2 separate regions of the Homo sapiens genome follow, and region 2 is linked to region 1. The links come from fine-mapping of genetic effects on gene expression. Tissue or cell type: whole blood. Region 1 holds a variant in brackets; the other region holds the start of a gene. All regions are shown on one strand. Distances are from middle to middle.

Evidence for each region. PIP is the estimated chance that this variant, and not a neighbour inherited with it, causes the effect.
Region 2: it holds the start of WIPI2, and the variant in region 1 is fine-mapped to the expression of WIPI2 in whole blood (TOPMed, PIP above 0.99). The same link has a PIP of 0.9 or more in monocytes after interferon gamma.

What each region holds. Positions count from the first base shown.
Region 1 is chr7:5,229,743-5,244,117 of GRCh38, reverse strand. WIPI2 (WD repeat domain, phosphoinositide interacting 2) reads right to left here. Exons shown (of 13, transcript NM_015610.4): 13 at 10,278-13,283. The coding sequence ends at 13,171. Among named protein-coding and RNA genes, the nearest start is that of SLC29A4, 46 kb to the left of the region's middle. RefSeq lists enhancers at 3,043-3,132, 3,606-3,900, 12,012-12,161 and a silencer at 9,386-9,445. The variant G/A (reference allele first, on the strand shown) is at 10,285.
Region 2 is chr7:5,179,598-5,193,644 of GRCh38, reverse strand. WIPI2 (WD repeat domain, phosphoinositide interacting 2) reads right to left here and starts at 3,412. Exons shown (of 13, transcript NM_015610.4): 1 at 3,152-3,412; 2 at 474-527. The coding sequence starts at 3,225. It also overlaps the pseudogene RNU6-215P. RefSeq lists silencers at 2,918-2,967, 2,978-3,627, 6,301-6,430, 10,440-10,640.

The DNA of each region.
Region 1 (14,375 bases):
CTCCCATCTCAGCCTCCCCAGTAGCTGGGACTACAGGTGCGTGCCACTATGCCCAGCTAGGGGCAGGGACAGTTTGTGAAAAGAGCCACTTGCTGCCATGTAGGACGAGCTCTCTCTCTCCGATGACCCCATCCAAATCCTTCTGGAGGACAGGGCCTGGGGAGGGACCCGTGCTCCGAAGCCCCAAAGCCCTCTCTGATGGAAACTGCCCAGTGATGGGCACAGCTCTACGTGTCTTCATCTTTCTAGGAGCCCAGAGGTTCTTCCAGATTTGGGGTGCCTCCTTAAGAGGGACCCCCAGAACACTGACACAGTCTGACCCCTGGAGTCAGGGGGTGGGGACAGGAGCTGATCCCTTGAACTTCCTCAAAAGGAGCAGAAAGCTGAAAATAACCAGAAAAGATGCTCCCCAGAGCCTTAAGCAAAGGAGCTCGTCTGAACAAATTGCGGGTTTTTCTCCTTTGCCGGCAACACGGCAGCCACAGCCCTCAGCCCTGCCTGCGGTGCCCACCTGAAGCAAACAGAGTGACTTTGCCAACCACAGTGACGTTCTGCATTGGTGTAGGTTTCAGGACAGAATGGAGCAGCCTGGGCGCTCCCACGAAGGTCAAGAAGGACATAAATGACAGAGCTGGCCAGCGGCCAGGACGCGGGGCCCATGGTGGGTTCTGGGGCAGTGGCCAGGGACCCTCCTGGGGGCCATTTGTCAGCACCAAGGAGGCTGCAGGGACCTGACTGCGAGTCTGTCAAGAAGAGGGCCGCAGGCAGCCTGGGGCATGGTGCCATGGTCTGGGCTTGGGGGTGGATGGTGGCCAATCCCAGAACGCATCTCTGCATCTCAGAAGGGGCCCAGGGAAGCCAGGGTGGGGTGGCTGAGGGTGGGGAGCTATGCAGATCCTGGCTCTTCAGACAAGGACAGCAGGGGCCTCCCCCGGCCCTGTTCCCTCAGCCTCTGCCAGGAGCAACTGAACCCTGTCCTGCCCTGTGCCACCAGCTGGGATGAGTTACCTTGCCCAGGAGAGTCTTCTATTTGGGGAGGGGTGTTTTGTGAGCAAAGTGCCCTGAAGCCAATGGGTCACTGTGCACACCATGAGGCGTTTCTTTCATTCTAAGGTGTCACTTAGTTACGGATTTCCAGGGGACAGGTGGCCAAATTAATGACCCTGGGCTGTGAAACACTCCAATTTTCTTTCTTTCTTTCTTTCTTTCTTTCTTTCTTTCTTTCTTTCTTTCTTTCTTGCTTGCTTGCTTGCTTGCTTGCTTTCTCTCTTTCTTTCCCTTCCTTCCTTCCTTTCTTTCTTTCTCTCTCTTTCCCTTCCTTCCTTTCTTTCTTTCTCTCTCTCTTTCTTTCCCTTCCTTCCTTTCTTTCTCTCTCTTTCTTTTCCTTCCTTCCTTCCTTCCTTCCTTTCTTTCTCTCTTTCTTTCCCTTCCTTCCTTCTTTCCTTCCTTCCTTTCTTTCATTCTTTCTTTCTTTCTCTCTCTCTTTCTTTTCCTTCCTTCCTTTCTTTCTATCTTTCTCTCTCTCTCTTTCTTTCCCTCCCTCCCTCCCTCCCTCTCTCTCTCTTTCTTTCTTTCTTTCTGACAGAGTCTCACTCTGTTACCCAGGCTGGAGTGTAGGGGTGCGATCTTAACTCGCTGCAATCTCCGCTTCCTGGGTTGAAGCGATTCTCGTGCCTCAGCCTCCTGAGTAGCTGGGAGTACAGGCACGCACCACCAAGCCTGGTTAATTTTTGTATTTTTTAAAGGAGACGGGGCTTTGCCATGTTGGCCAGGCTGGCCTCGAACTCCTGGCCTCGAATGATCCACCTGCCTTGGCCTTCCAAAGTGCTGGGATTACAGGCGTGAGCCACCGTGCCCCGCCCCTAACACTCCAATTTCATAAACACCACCACAGGGAAGGAATGGTCTTAGAATGAGTAGGTGGCTGCGTGTGGTGCCTCATGACTGTATTCCCAGCACTTTGGGAAACTGAGGTAGGAGGACTGCTTGAGCCCAGGAGTTTAAGACCAGCCTGGGCAATGTACCGAGAACCTGCCTCTACAAAAAGGCATAGTAGTGGGCACCAGGAGTCCCAGCTACTTGGGAGACTGAGGTGGGAGGATCACTTGAGCCCAGGAGGTTGAGGCTGCAGTGAGCTGTGATCCCACCACTGCACTCCAGCCTGGGTGACAGAGTGAGACCCGAACTCTAAAAGAAAAAAGAAAGAATGAGGCTGGGTGCAGCGGCTCATGCCTGTAATCCCAGCACTTTGGGAGGCCGAGGCAGGCGGATCACCTAAGGTCAGGAGTTCGAGACCAGCCTGGCCAACATGGCGAAACCTCATCTCTACTAAAAGTACAAAAATTACCCAGGCGTGGTGGCACGTGCCTGTAATCCCAGATACTCGGGAGGCTGAGGCAGGAGAATCGCTTGAACCTGGGAGGCGGAGGTTGCGGTGAGCTGAGATTGTACCACTGCACTCCAGCATGGGTGACAGAGTGAAACTCCATCTCAAAAAAAAAAAAAAAAAAGGAAGGAAGGAGGGAGGGAGGGAAGGAAGGAAGGGAGGGAAAAAAAAGAGAGAAAGGACCATGTATTGCCCAGGCAGAGCCTTATGGTTTACACTCACTGCTCTCGAACCTCACTCCCTGTACCTGCTGTTATCTCCGTGGGATGCAGGGAAGCCAAGGGCCTCTCTAGCACTTTCTCCATCCTGAGGTGCTGGGCAGCTCTCTCCTCAGGCTCTCTCGGGAGCTGTCTGTGCTTGGCCACCCTCCTTCCCCGGGGACATATCAGACTACACAGTGCCTGCTTCAGAGCAGACAGCGTTTGCTGGTGCGGGGTGTGTGTGTGTGTGTGTGTGTGTGTGTGCGCACGTGTCTATGTGTGTGTGTGTTGGGAGAGCCTCTGTCTGAAGGCTGAGGTCAGGAGCTCAGAGTCAAGCCGTCTGGGGGTGATGCTCCGGTCGCCCTCTCTAGATCTGACTGGCTTTTTCTTTTTCTTTCTTTCTTTTTTTTTTGACATGCACTCTCACTCTGTCGCCCAGGCTGGAGTGCAGTGGCGCGATCTCGGCTCACTGCAACGTCCGCCTCCCAGGTTCAAGTTAGTGTTCTGCCTCGGCCTCCTGAGTAGCTGGGATTACAGGCGCCCGCTACCATGCCCAGCTAATTTTTGTATTTTTAGTAGAGACGGGGTTTCACCATGTTGGCCAGGCTGGCCTCAAACTCCTGACCTCAGGTGATCCGCCTGTCTCAGCCTCCCAAAGTGCTGGGATTACAGACGTGAGCCACCTCGCCCGGCCTGACCGGCTTTATCGATTCACCATTTTAAATGGTGATGAATCGGCTCTCCCGCGGGGGAATGGCATGATTAGGAAACAGGTCGTTGAGAGGGGAGGGGTGGCCAATAAGAAGGCAGGCGGCCAGGAGGCCGTGGGGCTACAGACAGGGGAGGGAGCTGCCGCTGGAATGGAGTCCCACTGTGGCAAGGTCACCCTCTCCCCGGAGGGAGAGGCGCCCTCCGAGACCCACATTCATCCACAGGCGGTAACGAGAACAGAGTGAAATTCCCATTGTCGGAGGAAGCCAGGTTTCTCCACGGCCTCTGTTTGCCATTTTTGCATTGGGAGTTCATTCAAACTAGCACATTGGCGAAGCTCCCGGGTGCGACCGCCCAGCCCCCAAGGACACAGTCTGACCAGGGCACCCTCCCCCACAGCTCGCCAACCCACCAGCCCCGCAGATGTCTGCACAGTTGGGAGACTTCCACCACCTAGTGGCCGTGAAGAAAACCATCCACCCTCCTCAGAGCTCGGGGTTGGGAGGAGACTCAGGCGGCTCCTGAGGTCCTGATGGTCTATCCGTCTGTGTCTCGCAGCGTTAGGGTCCAGAGAAACACAGGAAAGGCAGGGCGGGGGCGGGGAGGGGTGCAGGGGAGCTCACCTGGCCCGGCCTGCCTCCCTTGTCTACCCAGCTTGCAGGGCCTCAGCAGCTCCAGGAGTCTGACAACAGCGCTCTGGGGAGGAAAATCTTACCAAGGAAGAGTTTGTAACTGTAGCATGCTTGTAAACTAGAATATTATTATTTTTTTTTTTGGTAGAGGCTGCGGCGGGTCTCAAACTGTTGCCCAGGCTGGTCTCGAACTCCTGGCCTCAAGTGATCTTCCTGTCTCAGCCTCCTGAGTAGCTGGGCATATCAGCCCACCTGGCTAATTTTTTTTTTTTTTTTTTTTTTTTTTTTTGAGCTGGAGTCTCGCTCTGTCGCCCAGGCTGGAGTGCAGTGGCGCGATCTCGGCTCACTGCAAGCTCCGCCTCCCGGGTTCACGCCATTCTCCTGGCTCAGCCTCCCGAGTAGCTGGGACTACAGGCGCCCGCCACCACGCCCGCCTAAGTTTTTGTATTTTTAGTAGAGAGGGGGTTTTACCGTGTTAGCTGGGATGGTCTTGATCTCCTGACCTTGTGATTCTCCTGCCTCGGCCTCCAAAGTGCTGGGATTACAGGCGTGACCCACCATGCCCGGCCACACCTGGCTAATTTTTTAATTTTTCGTAAAGACGGGGGTCTTGCTCTGTTGCCCAGGCTGGTCTTCAACTCCCAGCCTCAAGCAATCCTCTCACCTCGGGCTCTCAAAGTGCTGGGATTACAGGTGTGAGCCACTGTGCCTGGCCCCTAGGATACTATTTTATATTTCTAAAGATATCTGCATTATTTATTTATTTATTTATTTATTTTTGAGACAGAGTCTCACTCTGTCGTCCAGGCTGGAGTGCGGTGGCGCCATCTCGGCTCACTGCAACCTCCGCCTCCCGGGTTCAAGCGATTCTCCTGCCTCGGCCTCCCGAGTTGCTGGGATTACAGGCACGCGCCACCACGCTCAGCCAATTTTTTTATATTTTTAGTAGAGATGGGGTTTCACCACGTTGGCCAGGCTGGTCTCGAACTCCTGACCTTGTGATCTGCCTGCCTCGGCCTACCAAAGTGCTGCGATTCCAGGCGTGAGCCACCGCGCTCAGGCAATTTTTTGTATTTTTAGTAGAGACGGGGTTTCACCATTTTGGCCAGGCTGGTCTCGAACTCCTGACCTCGTGATCCGCCCGCATCAGCCTCCCGAAGTGCTGGGATTCCAGGCGGGACCCTCTGCGCCCACCGGGTGCTTGGCTTTAAAGGTGACTTGTCCTCCCGCCCACGCCATTCCTCAGAGTCACTGCAGGACTGAATGAATGGCGAGGGCAGGCGGGCAGGAGGCTCCAGGACTTCCTTCAGAGCCCGTTTCATTTTACTTAGGGCTTCTGCTAGTTAGTACCCGTGTGCTCTGGGATGCTGGTTTAAGCAGAAAATCCCAGCTGTTATTTCCAAAGCTGGTGGCGGAGTTTAGAAGTTTCTCGACTTAACATGCACCGTGCCTCCTCACACCGAGCGCAGATCCGCGCCCTGCAGACAGAGCTGTGCGCGCCAGGGAGCCAGTTCCCCAACCCTGCCGTTCTGCGGCCCTCGGTGGACTTCGGTCCGAACTCTCCCAGGTCCCCAGGCTCAGGCACAGGCTCAGCACTAAACGCACCAGGGAAGGTCAAGAGGAGGGCGCTGAGGGGACCTCCCCGAGGGAGAGGAAAGGCAGGGAAAAGTCTTCAGATTCCCTTGAGGAAAGGTGCTTCGCCGTCGCAGGGAGCCCAAGCACATTTCTGCGCTGACCCACTAAAAAGTAATGTCGCACAGGAAGAAAAAGCCACTTCTAAAAGCAGCAACAGGGCCGGGCGCAGTGGCTCACGCCCGTAATCTCAACACTTTGGGAGGTCGAGTCGGGTGGATCACCTGAGGTCAGGAGGTTTTTTTGTTTGTTTGTTTGTTTGTTTTTTGTGACAGAGTCTTGCTCTGTCGCCCAGCCTGGAGTGCAGTGGCGTGATCTTGGCTCACTGCAACCTCCGTCTCGCAGGTTCAAGTGATTCTTCTGCCTCAGCCTCCCGAGTAGCTGGGACTACAGGGGCGCACCACCAAGCCAGGCTAATTTTTTTTTCTTTTTTAGTAGAGACGGGGTTTCACCATATTGGCCAGGCTGGTCTCGAACTCCTGACCTCAGGTGATCCGCCCACTTCAGCCTCCCAAAGTGCTGGGATTACAGGCGTGAGCCACCGCGCCCGGCCGAGGCCAGGAGTTTGAGAACAGCCTTGGAAACATGGTGGAACCTCGTCTCTACAGAAACATGCAAAATTATCCAGGCTTGGTGGTGCGCACCTGTAATCCCAGCTACTCCAGAGGCTGAGGCAGGAGAACTGCTTGAACCTGAGAGGTGGAGGTTGCAGTGACCCAAGATCATGTCATTGCACTCCAGCCTGGGCTACAGAGCGAGACTCCCATCTCAAAGAAAAAAAAAATAAAATCAGAAGCAGAAGCTGTAACAGAAACAGAAATCAGCACAGGGAATAGTGGAGTCTTGTGTGTGTCCGAGGGATGACACGATGCTCAGCGTCTGCTCAGACAGACGGTGGCTGTGAGAAGCCCTGATGGGAGAGCTGCCAGCCTGGACAGCCGGCTGTGAAGACTCCACGCCAACCAACGTCCCGCAGGCCGCACGGAGATGGGCAGGACCGAAACACACAAGGCTTGGCCTTTGATGAAAAGGAACTCCCCAAGCCAGAAGGAAGTGTGTGATGAAGCAATTCAGCTCAGAGAAGGATGTGCTTCTAGAAGAATCGCCGCATCAGCACTATGTTTAAACTCACATGCTAATCCAAACATGGACCGGCAAGAACGCAGGCGGAACAGGTCCACCGTGTCCTGGCCCACGCACAAGCGGGCCAGCTGTTCCACCAACGCAATCATTCAGCTGCGGCGACACCCGGAGGGGCTCCCCTGTGTAATGCCCCCCACCCTGGGAGAGCTGGGTTTCTTTTTGTTTTCTTTTTTCTTTTTCTTTTTTTTTTTTTTGAGACGGAGGCTCACTCTGTCGCCAGGCTGGAGTGCAGTGGGCGATCTCGGCTTACTGCAAGCTCCACCTCCCGGGTTCAGGCCATTCTCCTGCCTCAGCCTCCCGAGTAGCTGAAACTACAGGCGCCTGCAACCACGCCCGGCTACTTTTTTGTATTTTTAGTAGAGACGGGGTTTCACCGTGTTAGCCAGGACTATCTCGATCTCCTGACCTCGTGATCCACCCGCCTCGGCCTCCCAAAGTGCTGGGATTACAGGTGTGAGCCACCACGCCTGGCCGAGTTGGGTTTCTTTAAAAGATTTTAGTCAGGCTTCTGGCATTTTGCTATAATATTCTAGGTAGAATTATAGGGCAATTTGGTACAAATTAGATGTTTAAGGCTGGGCTCGGTGGCTCATGCCTGTAATCCCAGTACTTCGGGAGGCCGAGGTGGGTGGATCACGAAGTCAGGAATTCGAGACCAGTCTGACCAACGTGGTGAAACCCCGTCTCTACTAAAAGTACAAAAATTAGCCTTGCGTGGTGGTGGGCACCTGTAATCCCAGCTACTCAGGAGGCTGAGGCAGGAGAATCGCTTGAACTTGGGAGGCAGAGGTTGCAGTGAGCTGAGATCGCACCACTGCACTCCAGCCTGGGTGACAGAGTGAGACTGTCTCAAAAACAAACCAAACAAACAAAAACAAATGAGATGTTCAGCCTGTGAGTAGGCAACAAAAAAATAGAACACAGGTTTTAATTTTAAGAGAGGGGGTCTTGCTATGTGGTCCAGACTGGCCTTGCCTCAAATTGCTGGTCTCAAGCGATCCTCCTGCCTTGGCCTCCCAAGAAGCTGGGATTATAGGTGTGAGCCACCACGTCCAATTCTTTAGCGTGTTATAAAATGCTGATAGCAATGGGCTTTCAGTCAGATTTGGTGGGGGAATGTAATCAGTATGTTCACCTGAAGCTCAGGCAGGCACACACACACACACTCACAGACACACACACACACACACATGCACGCACACTGGCAGCACCAAAAACAGCTTCACCTAAAATGAAGTGTTAAGAGGAATCTATTTACATTATAACTAACTATAGAAAGAAACGATGTAGAGGTGAGGAATCAAGACAGTCTCTTCACATTCTGAACTTTAGAAAGATTTCATTTTTCTTTTTTCTTTTTTTTTTTTTTGAGACAGAGCTGTGCTCTGTCACCCAGGCTGGAGTGCAGTGGCATGATCTCTGTTCACTGCAAACTCTGCCTCCCGGGTTCAAGCGATTCTCCTGCCTCAGCCTCCTGAGTTGCTGGGATTACAGGCACATGCCACCATGCCCATGTATTTTTAGTAGAGACGGGGTTTCACCATGTTGGTCAAGCTGGTCTCAAACGCCTGACCTTGTGATCCACCCGCCTTGGCCTCCCAAAGTGCTGGGATTACAATAGGCATGAGCCACCGCGCCCGGCCTCATTTTTCTAAATTAGAGACTTTCCTAGCTGGTTATTAGGGAAGGGTAAGAACTGGTCACATCTCAAAACCCTGAGATTGGTTTTGTTTTGTTTTTGTGCTTCAGAAAAACCCACAGATTGAAAAGGTATGACATAGGTGAAGGGTTATGACCTGGGTCAGAACTAAAAGATACGTCAGAAAAACCCTATCTGCTTGGCCAATGATTATCATGATATATTTTCAGTAAGAAATAAGTCATAAAAAAGAGAATTCTATGTAAAGCAGGGAGGCGACCCAAACAGAAGTCCCACGGTTTCCCTGCACGTTCTTTTTACATCTCCAACACCACAGAGCTGAAGCCGAACGGTCCCGCCTCTCTCTTAAGTACGCTTGTAAAATAACGCATTTGGATTTCCTGCTTGCTGGCCATGGTGTCACATGTCCGTTTCTTTTTCTTTTTCTTTTTTGAGACAGTCTCACTCTGTTGCCCAGGTGAGAGTGCAGTGGCATGACTCAGCTCACTGCAACCTCCACCTCCCGGTTTCAAGCAACTGTCCTGCCTCAGCCTCCAGAGTAGCTGGGATTACAGGCACCCACCACCACGCCTGGTTACTTTTTGTATTTTTAGTAGAGACAGGTTTTGCCATGTTGGCCAGGCTGGCCTCGAACTCCTGACCTTAGATGATCCGCCCGCTTCTGCCTCCCAAAGGGTTGGGATTACAGGCATGAGCCACCTCATGTACATTTCAAACAAGTGACTCGGTCATTCCCTGCATGCAAAGGTCTGGTCTACAAAGATGTAGGGCAGGGGACACACGAAACAACAAGCCTGGCCCATCCCCACCCTTTGCCAATGTGGTTATGAAAACCACGAGCAGCGGGGCGAGGTGGCTCATGGCTATAATCTCAGCACTTTGGGAGGCCGAGGCGGGTGGATCACTTGAGGTCAGGAGTTCGAGACCAGCCTGGCCAACATGGTGAAACCCGGTCTCTACTAAAAATACAAAAATTAGCCGGACGTGGTGGTGCGTGCCTATAGTCCCAGCTACTTAGGAGGCTGAGGGAGAATTGCTTGAACCCAGGAGGTGCACGTTGCAGTGAGCCGAGATCGTGCCACTGCACTCCAGCCTGGGCGACAGAGCGAGACTCAGTCTCAAAAAAAAAAAACCACAAAAACCCCCAAACAAAAAACTAAACCAAAAAAACCAGACGAGCAACAGGGATGAGCATGTTTTCTGCCACCCCTTGTCCCGTTTCCTTGGCTAAGCTGTGGCCAAAGCACTCCCGGCCTTTTACACATGGAGCCCACTGCTGGTTGTGGAGGTAGGAAGACTCCCTCTCTCCCCTCTCCAAATGAAACCGTGCGTGGGAAGAATCACCCAGTTCTCTCTGTGGCAGGGAACGGCAGCCATGGAGCTCCTGGGTCCCCTGACAGGGGCAGGGCCTGCTGTTCCAGGGCGCCCACCACCTCCCAGACCAGCTCGCACCACCTGCCCGTTAAGCTTGGTGTTGAGAAAAGGCGGGGATGAAAGAGACCCACGTGTAACCTCCATGTGAATTACACTTTTTTTTTTTGAGACAGAGTCTTGCTCTGTCGCCTAGGCTGCAGTGCACTGATGCAATCTTGGCTCCTGGCAACCTCTGCCTCCCAGGTTCAAGCGATTCTCCTGCTTCAGCCTCCCAAGTAGCTGGGATTACAGACGTGCACCATCCCCCGCCCCACCCCCCCAGCTAATTTTTGTATTTTTAGTAGAAATGTCGTTTCACCATGTTGGCCAGGCTGGTCTCGAATTCCTAACCTCAAGTGATCCGCCCACCTTGGCCTCCCAAAGTGCTGGGATTACAGGTGTGAGCCACCGTGCCTAGCCTCTGAATTACACTTCTTACCCGTATTGTCACCTCCCTCCCGCCTGGCTTATTCAAAAACCAGAACTGAATAAAAATCGTGTTTAATT[G/A]CAGAAGACACATTTATGTTGTAGCGTTTATTGGGTGCCCACCGCTGGCTGGGCACCGAGCTGGGCGTTTGCAGGACACGCAGTCACACAACACCTCACAACAGCCCTGTGAGGTAGGGATGAGTCCCATGGAACGGTCCAGAAAACGCAGGCTCCCAGGCGCCCTGCCTGCTCCCACAGCTAGGCAGGCGGTACAGCGGGGACTGAAGCAGTTCTTTTTGACTCCAGGTTCCATCCAGCTCTTGGTCCCATTGTTTTAGAGATTACAGAAGGTTTGGTCCCAGAGTCCACTGAGCCCATTCACAACGTTTACAGGTTTTGTTTCCTATCCCCCACGCTCATCGTCCTTTTTGAAGTTTGGAAAAATACAATTTAAAAATGAATATGAGTGTACAGTTTGGAGTTCGGAAAATTAGCACACGTTCTGTTTGGTTCAGGGTCCCTCTCCACCTGGGTCACTGGCGCAGCAGTAAGAGTTCTAACGGGCAACTCAGCGGCCTCCCTCTGTCCCCGTCACTCCTGAGCATGTCTGAGGCCGCCAGTGAGGCTGGGACTCATAGGTTCGAGCAGAGGAAGAGGAGCTGGTGGCAGTGAAATGGGCAACGGGAAAGTGGAGGCGGGTAACCCTCCACAATGGCTGCTCAGCAAACACAGAAATCCTCTTCATTCTTCTCGACCAAGAATCTGCAGTCCTCCTCCCTCCTCTAGGGCGCACAGCTTAGCCCTGACCCAGGCAAGCACAGGGCTTCCCGTGGTCTGCAGGGAACGCACCTAGCCAGCCCTGCCAGGGCCACCCAAGGGGGAGTGTGGGCCGAGGGTCACAGGACGTCCGAGGCCTCCTCTGCAACTGCCTCATCTTACAGTGCGGGAAGCCGAGGCTGAGCGAGGAAGACAATTCCCAGCATCTTCTATACTACCAATCCCAAAGAAAGACAAAAGAGACCTGGCAAAGGAAATTTGAGTCTCCAAATCACCACCACAGGCAGGCACCAGAACAAACGATACTTTAACGCAGAACTGGAAATGCAGCTCACTCTTTGGTGACAGGAAACCCTAGCTCAGGGTTCCGTATCTCTTGTGCACACTTTTTCCCCCCACACTCACTCTTGCCAAAAGTGGCTCCCAGGAGATGGAGTGCACGGTCAGGTTCTAGAGAGAGCCCTCTGGCCTTGCACCACAAGACGCAGGCGTGGGTCAAGGCTGCGTGCTGCCGCGGCCCTTCTCATCCCTGCTCAAGCATAGCCCACTCTGGCCTCGGCGGTCCCCACTGTCTCAGCCTGCGTGACCGGGATCCCATTTCATCAAAGGTCCAGGACAGACAAGCAGGTTTTGAAGGAAAAGTTCAATCAGCCCACTTGCACCTCTGCCTAATGCAGATGTTGTGTGTGCCGCACACCAGCGGCTGGGAGGAAGCCGGTGTAGGTGAGTCGGACTCCAGCGTCCCCTGCATTTAGTTTGCCGTAAAGCCAACCCAGGAACACTGGGGCATTTCACCGCAGCCGCTCAGCTGAGGGGACAACTCCCCTCCAGCTCTTCGCCCAGCGTGACCATGACAACCATCTGGAAACAGGCGTCCCAGCCTTCCTCGGTTCAAAAACCCCAGCCTGCAAAGGCAGGGTAAATAGTTTTTGCCTTTTCCCTTCTATCCGTAACTTCCACCACTCCATAGATTCTAAAACCATCTCTCCTGCCATTAATGCCACTTAAATGCCCTCGACACTTTGGCTGCTGGGTGCCTTGGTTTGGAATGCAGAGTCTGAGGTACTTGAGGTTGTTTTAATTCTGTAAATATGAAAAGGGAAGGGAAGCGAGGCAAATACTGAAGCTTGCAACCACAATCTCTCATCGGTTTGCTGAGGAAATTTTCTAAGATGAAAATAGAAAGGCACATGACGCCCTGTGAAGGACGTGGCCCAGCCGCCTACTCTCTGTTGCTGTCTCCCGCTACGACCTCTCACACAGGTAGGAAGCCCCTGCGGACAGCGGGGCCAGCGAAAGGACAGCTCAGACGGCCACCACACTTGAGTTCTGTGCTTTCCTGGGCATGGGAGGAGCTACAAACTTTACTTAAAAAAAAAAAAAAATCACACAGTTTTTCAACAGGAAGAGTGAAGTAGAAGAACAGATCATTTAATTATACAAACAAAATCGCTTTCCTTTGCTCCAGCGAGTCCAGGCAACCTTTCAAGTTCATTTGCTGCCTGAAAGAAAGGTTTTTAGTATCAGAAAGAACCTCGCTGTCCTCCAATATCCACAGGGAAAACAAGATCAGAAACAAAAGTCCACCATGGAAGAAATCCCAGAGCGATCCAATTTGGAAAGAATTTAATTAACAAAATAAAACGGAGGGAAAATGGTCCAGGTGGGGCCCTAGGGAGATCGGACTTCTGTCCCAGCTGAAGTCTGCCCAGCACACCTGGTGGGCAGCCCCTGGGCCTGTCACTGCAGAACTGGCCTTGACAAGCAGACCCACTGTGCGCGACGCCACGGTTTCCTTACGCACTCGGCATTATGTACAGATATGAAAAAACCCAACGGCAGGTGGCTGGAAAGTGGCTTCTAGCTCCCCTATGCTGGCTTGGCACGTTCATGCATGCAAAGCGAGGAGGTTTTGCGGGCTTCACCAAACAGTTAATTTTGGCAAAAAGAGAAAACAAACAAACAAAAAGCTAAAATTCATAAGCAGGATTTAAAAGCCACTGAAGTGAAAATGATGTATTTCCTCAGCGTTATGGAGTTAGACTACCACTACAATCTTTTTTTTTTTTTAATAAAGTCTCTGCCATCCTCTCCCCCGACTCAGGTCAAAGTTCATAGCAGCAATGCACAAAGTCCTCTGTGAAGCCAGTGTTCTCTGCTCCCCGGGTCAGAGGTCACAGGTCAAGTTCAGTCAGTCCGAAGAATCATGGGCGGGTGCTCGCTGTCCTCATCCAGGCGCAGGGCGCTGGCCTCGTCCTCCAGGCAGGCGCCACCCACAGCACCCAGGTCGTCTGTGTAGGCTGCAAAGAGACGACGAAGTCACCCTTCAAAGGCTGGGGACACACCACAGACCCCATGACACACACTGAGGACTGTGTTTTGGAAACACTGGTGTATATTTATAAACTGAAGCCTGTACTAAGACGTTCTGAATTCTGATTGCTTTCTAATGAACTCTTTGCAGCCTTAGGCAGCTCGAGATGAAGTCATTTGTTCTCTGACATTCATAAATGTCAAAATGATGCCTGCACAGTAAACAGAGGCTCCCTCATGGACGGGCCACAAACTCTCTCAAGCTGGTTAAGAGCTCAAAAATAACACCAGGAAAAAAAATGACACTAGGAGACTCTCAGGGTGGGCTCATGAACTGGAAGTGCCGGTTCACAGATGGGAGTGGCAGCGAGCAGGCACAGCCCTGCGTGGGTGCAAAACCACAGGCTCTCCCACTGGAGTGCGAGTTGGCTTTTTTAAGAAGGTGGCTCACATAGCCAAGGCTGTGGCTGGAGGATCTCATGCATGGGTCTTAGTGCTGCCGCCGGAGGGGAGCCCATTGGCCTCATTCCCCTACAGCTTCTGCACTTCACAGGCCCAGCATGAAGGCAGTACTCGATGCAGATTTGCTGAAGGACGAAAAAGGTGGGAGGGAAAAGACTGAGGCAAAACCCTTGGCAGTACTTTTCAGGGTGGTATCTTGGCTGAGAGGTGGCCAGTCTGGGCCCAAGTCACGTGACCCCAGAGTCACCTGAGCCAGGATGACATTTTCTTTAAAAACGGAGAAAATGAGCCTGGTACGGTGGCTCATGCCTATAATCCCAGCACTGTGGGAGGCTGAGGCGGGAGAATCACTTGAGCCCAGGAGGAGTTTGAGACCACCCTGGGCAACATAGGGAAACCCCATCTCTCCTTTAAAAAAAAAAAAAAAAAAGGAAACGAAACTGAATTCAGCCTTGAGAGAGGCCTTGGGAACACCCATTTACCAACCTCGCTTATGTTCTCAGAACCAGTCCCCATCTTTCCCAGTGAGGAGCTGGTGGGGTGGCTCCGGAGCCAGCAGAAGGCAGTAGCACTCGGGGCTGTGGGGCTAATTACCTTCCAGGTTTGCGTCACGCCCC
Region 2 (14,047 bases), 50 kb after region 1:
ATGATCATTATAACTATGCCACTGCACTTCAAACTGTGCAACAGTGAGACTCCATCTCAAAAACAAAAACCCAAACCCTTGATTTACAGATGAACAAAGAGAGGAGAGCAGTACCTTCCCAGCACAATAAGCATAACCTAGAAGAGACATGGTGGAAGAAAACAACAGGTTTCTCCTGTTGTCTCCACACACTTCATAACATCAATTCTACAAACACAAGACTTGGAAAGTCAAGTCCCTTTCTTCATTCCATCCCTTTTAGACATGGCATTTAAAACAGACATTGCTACATCACTAACTTCCCACAAGCTGTGGTATCCACTGGAAAAATGTAGTCCTTGATATTTCCATTTCAGATTCAAGTGATCCTCTCCCACTTATTAACTGGTTCACTGCAATTTCAAAAAGCCAAAAAAGTCCTCTAACATAAGCCTTCCAAGGTGATACTTTCAGAAACCAGGGTTGGAACTAACCAGACAACAGCGCGACGGCCAAGACCAGCTGCTCTTGATGCCCCTTTCACTTCTCTAGGTAAAAAAACAAAACAAAACAAAAAACAAATGGTAAAAAACAAATAAAACTTATGCACACTTTTAGGATAGGAATCATGAAAAAGTACGACATTGGAAATCATATTACCAGTAAAGAAAGGCAGGACAGTTATAGTTTGGTATGTAACAAATACAAAAAGAATTTAAAAGACAAAAAAAAGGGAAATGACCCTATAACATATATATTCTAGTAAGTGAACTGGCTTCCAAATTTTCTCACTGCATACAGTAAATGTGAGTTCTAGACGGTCATTCTTTCACTTGCTAAAAATTGTGCTCCTCAATAAATTCTGGAGATTAAGAAGGGAGGAAAAGGTATAAGCCATAAAAGCTCTCTCCGGGAACTTCTCTATTTCTTTCAAGTGTAGATTTAAAACAAATTACCGTCATTTTAGCCCAGTCAACTTCTAGTATAATCCTAGCTTACTATTCATTCCAATTTAGGTTTACACTACATCAAGGTCTCTCTGGCAAGTCAAAGTTATGAAATCTCAAAGTAACAGAAATCTCTTGAACTGTAATAACTTCGGGGAGCATGGAGAAGTGGGTAAGTGTGAAAATGTCCAAGTGTGAAAAGGTCCTATTTCAGGCCAGAGTGACACTCTTCTGTGACACAGGGAACATGGCAGTCCAGCTGAAGTAACAGTAAAAGAGAATGCTTTTCTCTATTTGATTTCATTCTGATAGAAATAATTAGTGAAAAACTGAAAGAGTGGCCGACAATGTTTTGGAAACTCTCTAATTTATACAAGGCATAAACCACCCTACTACTACTACCATTTCTTACTGGTCTCAAAATACTGTGGCCTTGGGCTTAAAAACCAAATTAGAATTGGTTTGGGATGTGTCCTTTTCCCTATCTGGATTAACATAGTCTATTCCACTTGAACTGCAACAGGTTGTCCGAATTGTTTGTTGTTCTGGCTTTTGGTCACACAGAACGCTACAGTACTTGGGAGTTTTCATCTTTACACGTTGTTATGCTATTATTTCTAAATTCACTGTCTTCAGAATTCTACTCTGTAAACAGAAAAAAAAACAGCATGGCAGAGCAGAAAGAACATTGGAAGAGAGCTCAGGAGGCGAGATTCCACTCCTGCCCCCGCTCCACTATTAACCAATTCCAAAACCCAGACCAGCTTGGAGCCTTTCGGAAGGATTTCCTCATCTGTAGTTGGATGAGGTGATTTGCCCCTTCCGACTCTCAATACAGTCCCACTGTGCGACTGTCTTCACAGCTTTGGGGAGGTGCTATTGAGTGCCTGCTGTACACCACCCACTGAGTGTTGTCCATTCTACAATTCACTTTTAATTTCCTAAAGAATCTTACCTTCTGCTATGTTAATTCCACTCAGCCAGTAACAACTCAACCAATGACTTAGTAAGATGCCAAATGCCCCACTCCTTCTCTTTCCTCACTTCCTCTTACTCACTTCCAAGATGGCTCTCCTCCCTGCCAACCCCATAACTCACCCTTCTCTCTCCAGAAAGCTCGCTCATCTATTAACCATCCCCACAAGTCCTCCTCCCAGGCAGCATCCAACCCGTATCAGTGGGGACAAACAGCGTTCCGAATGCACGGGCTGGCATTAAGGCCTTCTCTTGCCCTGAGGATGACCCACCCGCTGGAGCTCTGAGACTCCTGGGGCACTGGTCCGTAACGCCTCTCTTGGCTCAGTTTCTCCCTAGCTAGGTCAGATGCCAAGGTTATTGCTAAGTTTGTTACTTGCTGGAGAAGACATCAAAGTTGATGTCCCAAAAAGAACAGGGAGGGCCGCGCACGGTGGCTCACACCTGTAATCCCAGCACTTTGGGAGGCTGAGGTGGGCGGATCACTTGAGGTCAGGAATTTGAGACCAGCCTGACCAACATGGTGAAACCCTGTCTCTACTACAAATACAAAAAAGTTAGCTGGGCACAGTGGCGCGTGCCTGTAGTCTCAGCTACTCGGGAGGCTGAGGCAGGAGAATCGCTTGAACCCAGGAGGCGGAGGTTGCAGTGAGCTGAGATGGCACCACTGCACTCCAGCCTGGGCAACAGAGCAAGACTCTGTCTCAAAACAAAACAAACCCCAAAAAACAAAAACAAACAAAAAAACAGTGAGAAACGAAGAAAAGAAAATCAAGAGAGAGAGAAGGGTCTTAAGACGATGAAAAGACAAGGAGAAGGGCCTGATTCAAAGGAGAGTGAGTGGGAGACGCTGAGCAAGCAGCGGGAAGAGGAGACGAGAGGAGAGGAAGCGACCCACACCCAGCGCTCCACAGGCGGCCAAGACAAGTCAAGCCCCAAAGTTCGGCCCCAACTTTGCGAGAAGTAGTTAAGTCTGAAGCCAGGGGGCCTCCCCGCAAGAGGGTGAAAGCAGCCCCCTCTCCACCACCTCTCCCGCTCCGGGACCGCAGCTCCAGGCCAGCACCCGAGGGTCTCCCTGGAGGGCGCCCCTCCCTGCACGCCCCGGGCCCGCCCCTGGGGACGCCTCTGCGCGCCTTGGCCCGCGGGGAGGCCGAGCCTGCGACGCCGCCGAGCTTGGCAGCGAGGCCCTCCCCCTAGCCCGGGTCCGACCCTGGCCTCACCCCGACTCCGACCCCCGACCCCGGCCTTACGTGTTGTCCTGGTTGAAGTTGGCGAAGAGCAGCTGGCCGGCGCCGGCCTCCCCGCTCTGGCTCGCCAGGTTCATGGCTGGGCGCGCGGCGAGTGGGCCCGGCCGGGGAGGGCGCGCGCGCGAGGGCGGGTCAGGCTGCACTCAGGGTCGGCGCCGGGCCCCGCTCGCCGCCTCGGTCGCCGCCACTCGCCACCCTGGGATCAACCGCCGCCTCATCCCGTCCCCGCTCTTGTTTATGCTCCAGAGCCGGGGCACCCGGTACGCCTGCGCGGCCCCGCCCCCGCGACGCACGGCCTCGAGCGGCGCAGTCGCACTGCGGAGGCCCCGCCCTCTCACCGCCTGCCTGGGCTTGGGTTCCGGTGGATCACGCAGGCGTGGGGACGCGTCGGGGCGCGCTGGGCCTGGCTGAGGGCGAGCGGCGGCCGCTCATGCGCATGGGGCAGAGCTGGCGGGAGTCTGTTTTCTGCGTACCCTCCTCTTAATAACACTCAATGGCCAGGCACGGTGGCCTGTAATCCCAGCATTTTGGGAGGCCAAGGCGGGCGGATCACCTAAGATCAGAAGTTCGAGACCAGCCTGGCCAACATGGTGAAACCCCGTCTCTACTAAAAATACAAGAAAAATTAGCCGGGCTTGGTGGTGTACGCCTGTAATCCCAGCTACTCGGGAGGCTGAGGCAAGATAATCGCTTGAACCCAGGAGGCGGAGATTGCAGTGAGCCGAGATCATGCCACTGCAATCCATCCAGCCTGGGCCATAGAGCGAGACTCTGTCTCAAACAACAACAAAAACAAAAACAAAAACACCCCAATGGGCCCTCCATGTGCCAATCACTGTGCTGAATGCTTCTGCGCATTACCTTATCATTTTATTATTTTGAAAGACAAGGTCTCGCTCTGTTGCCTAGGCTGGAGTGCAGAGGCTCAATCACAGCTCACTGCAGCCTCAAACTCAGGCTCAAGCGATCCTCCCACCTTAGCCTCCCAAGTAGCTGGGACCACAAATGCATGCCACCACACCCTGCTAACTTTTAAGTTTTTTGTAGAGATGGGGTGGGGGCGGGGGGGGTCTTACTCTGTTGCCTAGGCTGGTCTCGCACTCCTGGCCTCAAGTGATGCTCCCACCTCGGCCTCCCAAAGTACTGGGATTACAGATGTGAGCCACTGTGCCCAGCCACATTATCTTATTTGATGCCCATTACAATCCTAAGTAGAGAATAGTATATCTTAATTTTACAGATTTGAAAATCGAGGCTCAGAAATAATTATTAGCCAAGTGCTAGATCTGAGACTGGAAACGTCCTGTTTCTCCAAGGTCCATACTGTCTGGGTTCCTGGGACAGAATCGTCCCTTAAATTTATTCATTCATTCAACAGTATTTAGGACGCACCTCTCATGTGAACTAAATAGGCCTCCTCCTTTCCCTCAGAGAAGTTATAATGGGGAGATATTTAAATATAAATAGAAGGCCAGGTGTGGTGGCTCTTACCTGTAATCCCAGCACTTTGGGAGGCTGAGGCGGGTGGATCACCTGAGGTCGGGAGTTCCAGACCAGCCTGGCTAACATGGTGAAACCCCGTCTCTACTAAAAGTACAAAAGTTAGCTGGGTATGGTGGTGGGCACCTGTAATCTCAGCTACTAGGGAGGCTGAGGTGGGAGAATTGCTTGAGCCCCACAGGTGGAGGTTGCAGTGAGCCGAGATTGCACCTCTGCACTCCAGCCTGGACGGACGACAGAGTGAGACTCCATCTAAAAAGTAAAATAAAATAGGCTGGGCATGGTGACTCACGCCTGTAACCCCAGCACTTTGGGAGGCTGAGGCAGGTGGATCACCTGAGGTCATGAGTTTGAGACTAGCCTGCCCAACATGGTGAAACCCTGTCTCTAGGAAAAATGTAAAATATTAGCCAGTTGTGGTGGCACGGCCCTGTAATCCCAGCTACTCAGGAGACTGAGATGGGAGAATTGCTTGAACCCAGGAGGTGAAGGCTGCAGTGAGCCGAGATCATGCCACTGCACTCCAGCCTGGGCGACACAGTGAGACTCCATCTCAAAAAATAAAATAAATAAATATAATTAGAAACTCGGGGGTACAATGAGCGAATATATATATATATATATATATATATATATTTTTTTTTTTTTTTTTTTTTTTTTTGAGACGGAATTTCACCTTCTTGACCAGGCTGGAGTGCGATGGCGCAATCTCGGCTCACTGCAACGTCCACCTTCCGGGTTCAAGTGATTCTCCTGCCTCAGCCTCCCGAGTAGCTGGGATTACAGGTGTGCACCATCACGCCCAGTTAATTTTTGTATGTTTAGTGGAGACGGGATTTCTCCATGTTGGTCACGCTGGTCTCGAACTTCCGACCTCAGGTAATCTGCCTGCCTCGGCCTCCCAAAGTGCTGGGATTACAGGCATGAGCCACTGTGCCTGACCATGAATGCATATATAGAAGTCACACAACCTATATTTAAGGGACAGGGACTGTGCTATTGAGAAGGCTCCTGGAAGAGATGAGACCTGAAGTTTGAGTAACTAGTCTAAGGGCATGAAAACACTCTATATGGGAAGGGCTTGAGGATGAGGGTGTGACCTGTCCAAAGAACTCTATGTTCAGAGTGGAAAGGCAGACACAAGGCAAGATTTGGCAGGAGAGACAGGAGGTGGCCAGATCAAGCTGCGTATTGTTACGCAAGGAACTGACCATTATCTGATTATTGTCCATAAGAGCAATGGTCTGCCGTTAAAGACAGGCAGGAAAGTGGAACGATCTAATGAGTGCTTACAGAAGTTAATTCTAATTATAGGGTCAAGAACGCATTGGAAATCATTGAGGAAAGGATGGTCTTTTCAATAAAAGGAATAAGTACCCCTACCTCACACCATATTCAAAAATTAATTTGAGATGGATTACAGTCCTAGATGTGAGAGGTAAAAACAATAGAATTTCTAGAAGGAAACGAGAATGCCTTCATGATTTTGGGATAAACAAAGTAGTCTAAACAGGTACTTTAAAGCGGATGTGTTGGCTCATGCCTGTAATCCCAACACTTTGGGAGGCTGAGGCAGGCGGATTGCTTGAGTCCAGGAGTTTGAAACCAGACTAGGCAACATGGGGAAACCCGGTCTCTACAAAAATACAAAAATTAGCTGGGCGTGGTGGTGTGCGCCTGTGGTCCCAGCTCCTTCAGAGGCTAAGGCGGGAGGATGGCTTGAGCCTGGGAGTTCAAGCCTGCAGTGAGCTATGACCGCGCCACTACACTCCAGCCTGGGTGACAGAGCAAGATCCTGTCTCAAAACAAAACAAGTTCTTTAAAAAGTAGTAACCACAGGCCGGGCGCGGTGGCTCACGCCTGTAATCCAGCATGTTGGGAGGCCAAGACAGGCAGATCACGAGGTCAGGAGATCGAGACCATCCTGGCTGACATGGCGAAACCCCGTCTCTACTAAAAATACAAAAAATTAGCCGGGTGTGGTGGCTGGTGCCTGTGGTCCCAGCTACTCAAGAGGCTGAGGCAGGAGAATGGCGTGAACCCGGGAGGTGGAGGTTGCAGTGAGCTGAGATCGCACCACTGCACTCCAGCCTGGGTGACAGAGCGAGACTCTGTCTCAAAAGAAAAAAAGTAGTAACCACAAAATGAGAGATTGGCCTTCATCAACATTGAGAAGAATGGGCTATTTTCAAGAGACCATTAAGAGAGGAAGAAAAGGCAAGATTTAGAGATACATATATTTATTTTATATATATATATATATATATATATATATATATATATTTTTTTTTTTTTTTTTTTTTTTTTTTTTTTTGAGACGGAGTCTTGCTCTGTCACCAGGCTGGAGTGCAGTGGTGCGATCTCGGCTCACTGCAACCTCTGCTTCTAGGGTTCAAGCGATTCCCCTGCCTCAGCCTCCCAAGTAGCTGGGACTACAGGCGTGTGCCACCACACCAGGCTAATTTTTTGTGTTTTAGTAGAGATGAGGTTTCACTGTGTTGGCCAGGATGATCTCAATCTCCTGATCTCGTGATCTGCCCGCCTTGGCCTCCCAAAGTGCTGGGATTACAGGCATGAGCCACCACGCCCGGCCTGCAATATATATATTTTTGACAAAGGAATTATACCCAGAACTTCTGCGCATCAATAAGAAAAATATAGACAGCTTTTTTTTTTTTAACTGGGCAAAATACTTGAACACAAGCACTTCACAAAAGAGGATATCAGAATGTTAATGAGCACCTGAAAAGGTGGTCATCGTTAATACTCATTAAGAAAATGTAAATTAAGGCTGGGTGTGGTGGCTCACACCTGTAATCCCAGCACTTTGGGAGGCCAAGGTGGGAGGATCACCTGAGGTCAGGAGTTCGAGACCAGCCTGGCCAACACGGTGAAACCCTGTCTCTACTAAAAATACAAAAATGAGCTGGGCCTGGTGGTAGGCACCTATAGTCCTAGCTACTCGGGAGGCTGAGGCAGGAGAATCGCTTTAACCTGGGAGGCAGAGGTTGGAGTGAGCCGGGATCACACCACTGCACTCCAGCCTGGATGACAGAGCAAGACTCCATCTCAAAAAAACCAAACAAACAAACAAAAAAAGAAAATGCAAATTAAGGGCAAATGAGGTATTACTAAGCATCCACCAAATTGGCTAAAATTAAAGCAACTGACAATCCCAAGTGTGGATGACCATAGAGCGCAATTGGAACTCTCATACACTGTGGATGGAGTCTCGCTCTGTTGCCCAGGCTGGAGTGCAGTGGCACGATCTCGGCTCACTGCAAGATGAAAGTCTAAATTGTTTCAACCACTTTGGAAAACTTGGGCACTACCTACTAAAGTTTTGTTTTTGTTTTTTGTTTTTTTGTTTTTTAAATGGAGTTTTGCTCTTGTCGCCCAGGCTGGAGTGCAGTGGCACAATCTTGGCTCACTGTAACCTCAGCCTCCACCTCTTAGGTTCCAGCGATTCTCCTGTCTCAGCCACCCAAGTAGCTGGCATTACAGGCACCCACCACCACGCCCGGCTAATTTTGGTATTTTTAGTAGAGACGGGGTTTCACCTTGTTGGTCAGGCTGGTCTTGAATTCCTGACCTCAGGCCACCACGCACGGTCTATTTACTAAAATTAAACATATATATACCTTTTGACTCGGCCAAATGCACTGTATATGCATTTCTAGGTGCATATACAGTAGAATTAGTGCATATTTTCACTAAAAGACATAAATAAGAATGTTCATAGCTACTGCATTCATAATAAAGTGCTGAGATTACAGGCGTGATTCACCGCACCTGGCTTGGTAATGTACTTTCATACTTTCTTTAATAAGTCTGCCAATCACAGCACTTTGGGAGGCCGAGGAGGGCGGATCATGAGGTCAGGAGATCAAAACCATCTTGGCTAACATGGTGAAACCCCGTCTCTACTAAAAATACAAAAAATTAGCCAGGCGCGGTGGCGGGCGCCTGTGGTCCCAGCTACTTGGGAGGCTGAGGCAGGAGAATCGTTTGAACCCAGGAGGCGGAGGTTGTGGTGAGCCGAGATTGCACCACTGCACTCTAGCCTGGGCTACAGAGCAAGACTCCGTCTCAAAAAAAAAAAAAAAGTCTCTTTCTTTACTTACCACTGTATAGTCATGTCTCACCCGCCATGGTTATTGGTGAATGAAGATACATAAAGAGGTGCCTGAGTGAATCCTCGGGGTTCTAGACATAGTTCTCCTCGATCTCATTCTGAGCAGCAACCCAACTTTCCCTTGCTCATAGCAATCTATGATCCCAGCTGGAACAGAAACTCCTTCTCTCTCTATTGGTTCAGTGAATGAAGATCCCAAAATGACCGCGAAGTAGACTCAGTTTCCAATGGACCAGAACCACAACTCTGTTCCCTGGGATAAAACAGGGAATTCCATGGCCTGGGTGAGGTGGCTCACACCTGTAATCCCAGCACTTTGGGAGGCTGAGGCGGGTGGATCACCTGAGGTCAGTAGTTCGAGACCAGCCTGGCCAACATGGAGAAACCTCATCTCTACTAAAAATACAAAATTATCCGGGCGTGGTGGCACCTGCCTGTAATCCCAGCTACTCGGGAGGCCGAGGCAGGAGAATCACTTCAACCCGGGAGGCGGACGTTGTGGTGAGCCAAGATCACACCATTGCACTCCAGCCTGGGCAACAAGAGCGAAACTCCATCTCAAAAAAAAAAAAAAAAAAAGCGAATTCCTTGTGTGTTAGGATCTCAAACTCCAGTAAGCCCTGAGTTGGGTAGATGAAAACAAAAGTTCCTTAAGTGAGTTATTAGATGTTATATGCAAGGAAAAACTACCACCTCCACTCTTGGTTTGCAGGTGTGTACTGCATATTATTGAACAACAGCCCAGTCTTACAGGATGTGGTCTCTTAGCTGCAGTCATGACTGAGCCTTCCATAGGCTTGCTTCAGTAGCCTTCTGTAGGCCACTCTACCATCCATCTGGGTAATAGGGCACATGGTGAATCCCAAACGCATGAGCCCATTGTCAAAATTCCTTCATCTTAGTGTAAAGCTCTCAGTCAAAAGAGATGTGAATGGCTGGGCGCGGTGGCTCACGCCTGTAATCCCAGCACTTTGGGAGGTCGAGGCAGGTGGATCACTTGAGGTCAGGAGTTCGATACCAGCCTGGACAACATGGTGAAACCCCATCTCTACTAAAAATGCAAAACTTAGCCGGGCATGGTGGAGGGTGCTTGTCATCCCAGCTACTCAGGAGGTTGAGGCAGAAGAATCGCTTGAACCCAGGAGGCAGATTGCAGTGAGCTGAGACTACACCACTGCACTCCAGCTTGGGTGACAGAATGAGACTCTGTCTCAAAAAAAAAAAAAAAAAAGAAAAAAAGAAAGAAAAAAAAAGACTGGGAGGATCAATTTCTATGTTTATTCAAAGAAACCATAAACATCAGTTCCATGGGGACAATTGGGCTGGTTTCACCTCAAGAACTAAACCCTGGTCCTCCTTTTCTGGTGGCCAGGATGGGCTGGAGCTGAGAGCCGCTGCTCACTCATCCAGCTTTTGTTTAATTGCTCTATCATCTGCGTGGTATTGGGAACTGCCAGAAGGGTGTTGTTGGAGAGCAGGCTGGGTTTCTGCCAGGGACGTGACCTGCGTGTGACGCAGGAATGCACCTGCATGTCTTGGCTCACCTGGAGACAGCATCAGCTGACATTCCTGATGGCATGGAGAGCAGGAAGGATGCTCAGGGCCTTCTATCATCACTTTGGGATTCCTCCAGGTGACCGGCCCGATGCCCAGCTCAGAGAGAAGAGACTTTCTGCTTTCAACCTGAGAGCAGAACCCTCATCTGCAGGTGCGTGGAGTCTCCTTATTTGCTAGCTTCGGAGCTGAGCAATCCTCCCACAGATCAGTGCCTAAATAAACTTGTGGGATAAACAGCTGGTGTGGAGGAGGGAACTAAGGACTGGAGTGAAAGGGTACATGAGTGGAGGAAGGGCTGGACATGCAGAACACTCATATCAAACAGGTGTGTTGGGGTTCAAACCCTGGCTTGGTTCTCCGGGGATATATGACTTTACATCAGTCACTTAACCTCGCTGAGCATTAGTTTCTTTAAAAAGAAGGGCTATGGCTGGGCGCGGTGGTTCATGCCTGTAATCCCAGCACTTTGGGAGGCCGAGGTGGGTGGTTCACCTGATGTCAGGAGTTCAAGACCAACATGGTAAAACCCCATCTCTACTAAAAATACAAAAATTGGCCGGGCGTGGTGGCTAATGCCTGTAATCCCAGCTACTCAGGAGGCTGAGGCAGGAGAATAGCTTGAACCCGGGAGGCGGAGGTTGCAGTGAGCTGAGATCACACCACTGCACTCTAGCCTGGGCGACAGAGCGAGACTCCATCTCAAACAAAAACAAAAAAAAAACACAGAAGAGCTTGAATATCTCACAACCTAAGAATGCTATTAAGATAGAGTGGGGAGCCAGGCACGGTGGCTCATGCCTGTAATCGCAGCACTTTGGTAGGCTGCGGTGGTTGGATCACTTGAGGTCAGGTGTTCAAGACAAGCCTGGCCAACATGGCAAAACCCCGTCTCTACTAAAAATACAAAAAGATAGCTGGGCATGGTGGCTTGCACCTATAATCCTATCTACTCGGAAGGCTGAGGCAGGAGAATCGCTTGAACCCGGGAGGCAGAGGTTGCAGTGAGCCGGAGATCGCGCCATTGCATTCCAGCCTGGGCAACAGAGTGAAACTACATCTCAAAAAAAAAAAAAAAAAAAAAAGGCCAGGCCAGACGCGGTGGCTTATGCCTGTAATCCCAGCACTTTGGGAGGCTGAGGCGGGCGGATCATGAGTTCAGGAGATCGAGACCATCCTGGCTAACACGATGAAACCCCGTCTCTAGTAAAAAATACAAAAAATTAGCCGGGCATGGTGGCGGGCACCTGTAGTCCCAACTACTTGGGAGGCTGAGGCAGGAGAATGGTGTGAACCCTGGAGGCGGAGCTTGCAGTGAGTAGAGATCGCGCCACTGCACTCCAGGCTGGGCGACAGAGCGAGACTCCATCTCAAAAAAAAAAAAAAAAAAAAAAAAGAAAGGTACAAAATCTCAGTTAGAAAGAAGGAATGCTTTTTTGAGAGCTATTGCACAGCCTGGTGAATATAACTAACAACACTGTATAGTACATTTCAAAACTGTTAAGAGGTCAGGCGTGGTGGCTCACGCCTGTAATCCCATCACTTTGGAAGGCCAAGGTGGGAGGATCACTTGAGCTCTGGAGTTAGAGACCAGCCTTGGCAATATAGTGGGGCTCCATCTCGGCAAAACAATTTTAAAAATTAGCCAGCCATGGTGGCGCACAGCTGTAGTCCCAGCTACTTGAGAGGCTGAGGTGGGAAAATTTCTTGAGCCTGGGACGTTGAGGCTGCAGTGAGCCGTGATCATGCCACTACACTCCAGCCTAGGTGACAGAGTGAGACCCTGTCTCTAAAACAAAAAAAAAATTGTTAAGAAAATAAATTTTAAATGTTCTCACCACCAAAAAATATAAATATTTGAGGTGATGGATGTATTAATTAGCTTGATTTAATTATTCCACGTTGTATTCATAAGCCATAACATCACGTTGTACACCATAAATACACACATGGTCAATTTACAATAAAATTTTAAAAATGTAAAGAATGGCAATGGAAACAAAAAATATTGAATGGATAAAAGGAAATGCTTCCAGAATAGTGGAGCAAGAATCTCCAAAAACTCACTCCTCCATATAAGCAAAGAGAATGCTGACAAAAATGGTCAAAATCAATTTCTTCAGACCTGGAAATTATCTAAAGGCTTGCAACAATTTGAAGAGTATATGTTCAAGTAAGAGGGCTGAATCTCAGTATAAACACTGATTTTGTGCCATTTTAATTTGCTCTAAAAGCATCCCTCTCTTCCAGATCCATGAAAATAGGCTGGCTTTTAACCATGGTAGCTGTGAAAACAAGCATCTTGCCAGTCACTGGAAGAGGCAGGCTGGGCTTGGAGCTCCCTAAAAGCCCCATCCCCCAAAAACTGTCACTATTTGACTTGTCTGCCAGTTTGCTGAAAAATGCTATTCTCAAAGCTTGTCTTTATTTGATCCAAGAGTTTGCCAGTATCTGTGCAAATAGCCCTATGCCCAAGGCATTTGTCCAAAACAATCAGTGGCAATTGTTTAACATTTCAACTACCTGATGTGGTGTAACCGTGGCAAGGCAAGGGTTAAAAAGAAAAGAAGAACAAGTTTTCCTCTGCTTAGCAGCTCACTTCAAGGACAGTTACAAGATAACACTGTCTGAAAAGTTGAAGCCAAAGGAATGGGCTCCAGACATCCATACCCGGCTAATTTTTTGTATTTTTAGTAGAGATGGGGTTTCACCATGTTAGCCAGGATGGTCTCGATCTCCTGACCTTGTGATCCCCCGCCTCGGCCTCCCAAAGTGCTGGGATTACAGGCGTGAGCCACTGCGCCTGGCTTGATCAAAAATTTTTTAAAGGAATAACTGGGAAAAGAGATGCCAATAAGATACTTTAAAAAACCCCTGCTGTGTTTCTGAGAATCTAGTGGGCTACGTGCATGTACAGGGCTGTGCGCACACCCAGGAAGACCTGAGAAGGTCCTAAACTCTCACCTCTGGCTGACCTTGAGTGTCTGCACAAGAGGAAATGAAGGCTAAGGCAGAGTTGTAAGTTGCTTGCTGGAGTATTGAAAACATGCCTCAACACACACAGAGTTTGTCAGCAAATGCTGGGAAACTTAATGGTCTAAAGCATTTAAAAAGATCACTTTTTAATTTTTTAAATCATTTTTTTAAAAATATGGAATAATTCACGAATTTGTGTGTAATCCTGGCACAAGGGTCAGATAATCTTCTCTGTATCATTTTAATTTTAGTGTATGTGCTGCCAAAGCAAGTAGACGTCTAGGAATATCTCTGTCCAGTTATTAGCTGACCACTGAGATAACTAAGCAAAGTCTTCAGTGGTTGCACAGAACAAAGAACACAGATTTTACAAAGTCCAGAAAAGTCACTAAACAAACACCAGCAGCAACAAGCAACAACAACAGCAAACCCCAGGGAGTGGGGAGAGAGGAATCTGATTTCCAGAAGTGCCATATTGTTTAATTTAATTTTTTTTTCTTTTGTAGAGACAGAGTCTTCCTATGTTGCCCAGGCTGATCTCAAAGTCCTGGGCTCAAGTGATCCTCCTGTCTTAGCCTTTCCAAGTGCTGGGATTACAGGCGTGATCCACTGCACCCGGCCATAAACTATGATGTTTGCCAGGCTAGGTGTATTGAATGCATTTTGACTTATGATATTTTCAACTTAAAATGGGTTTATCAAGACATAATTCTATTGTAAGTTGAGGAATATCT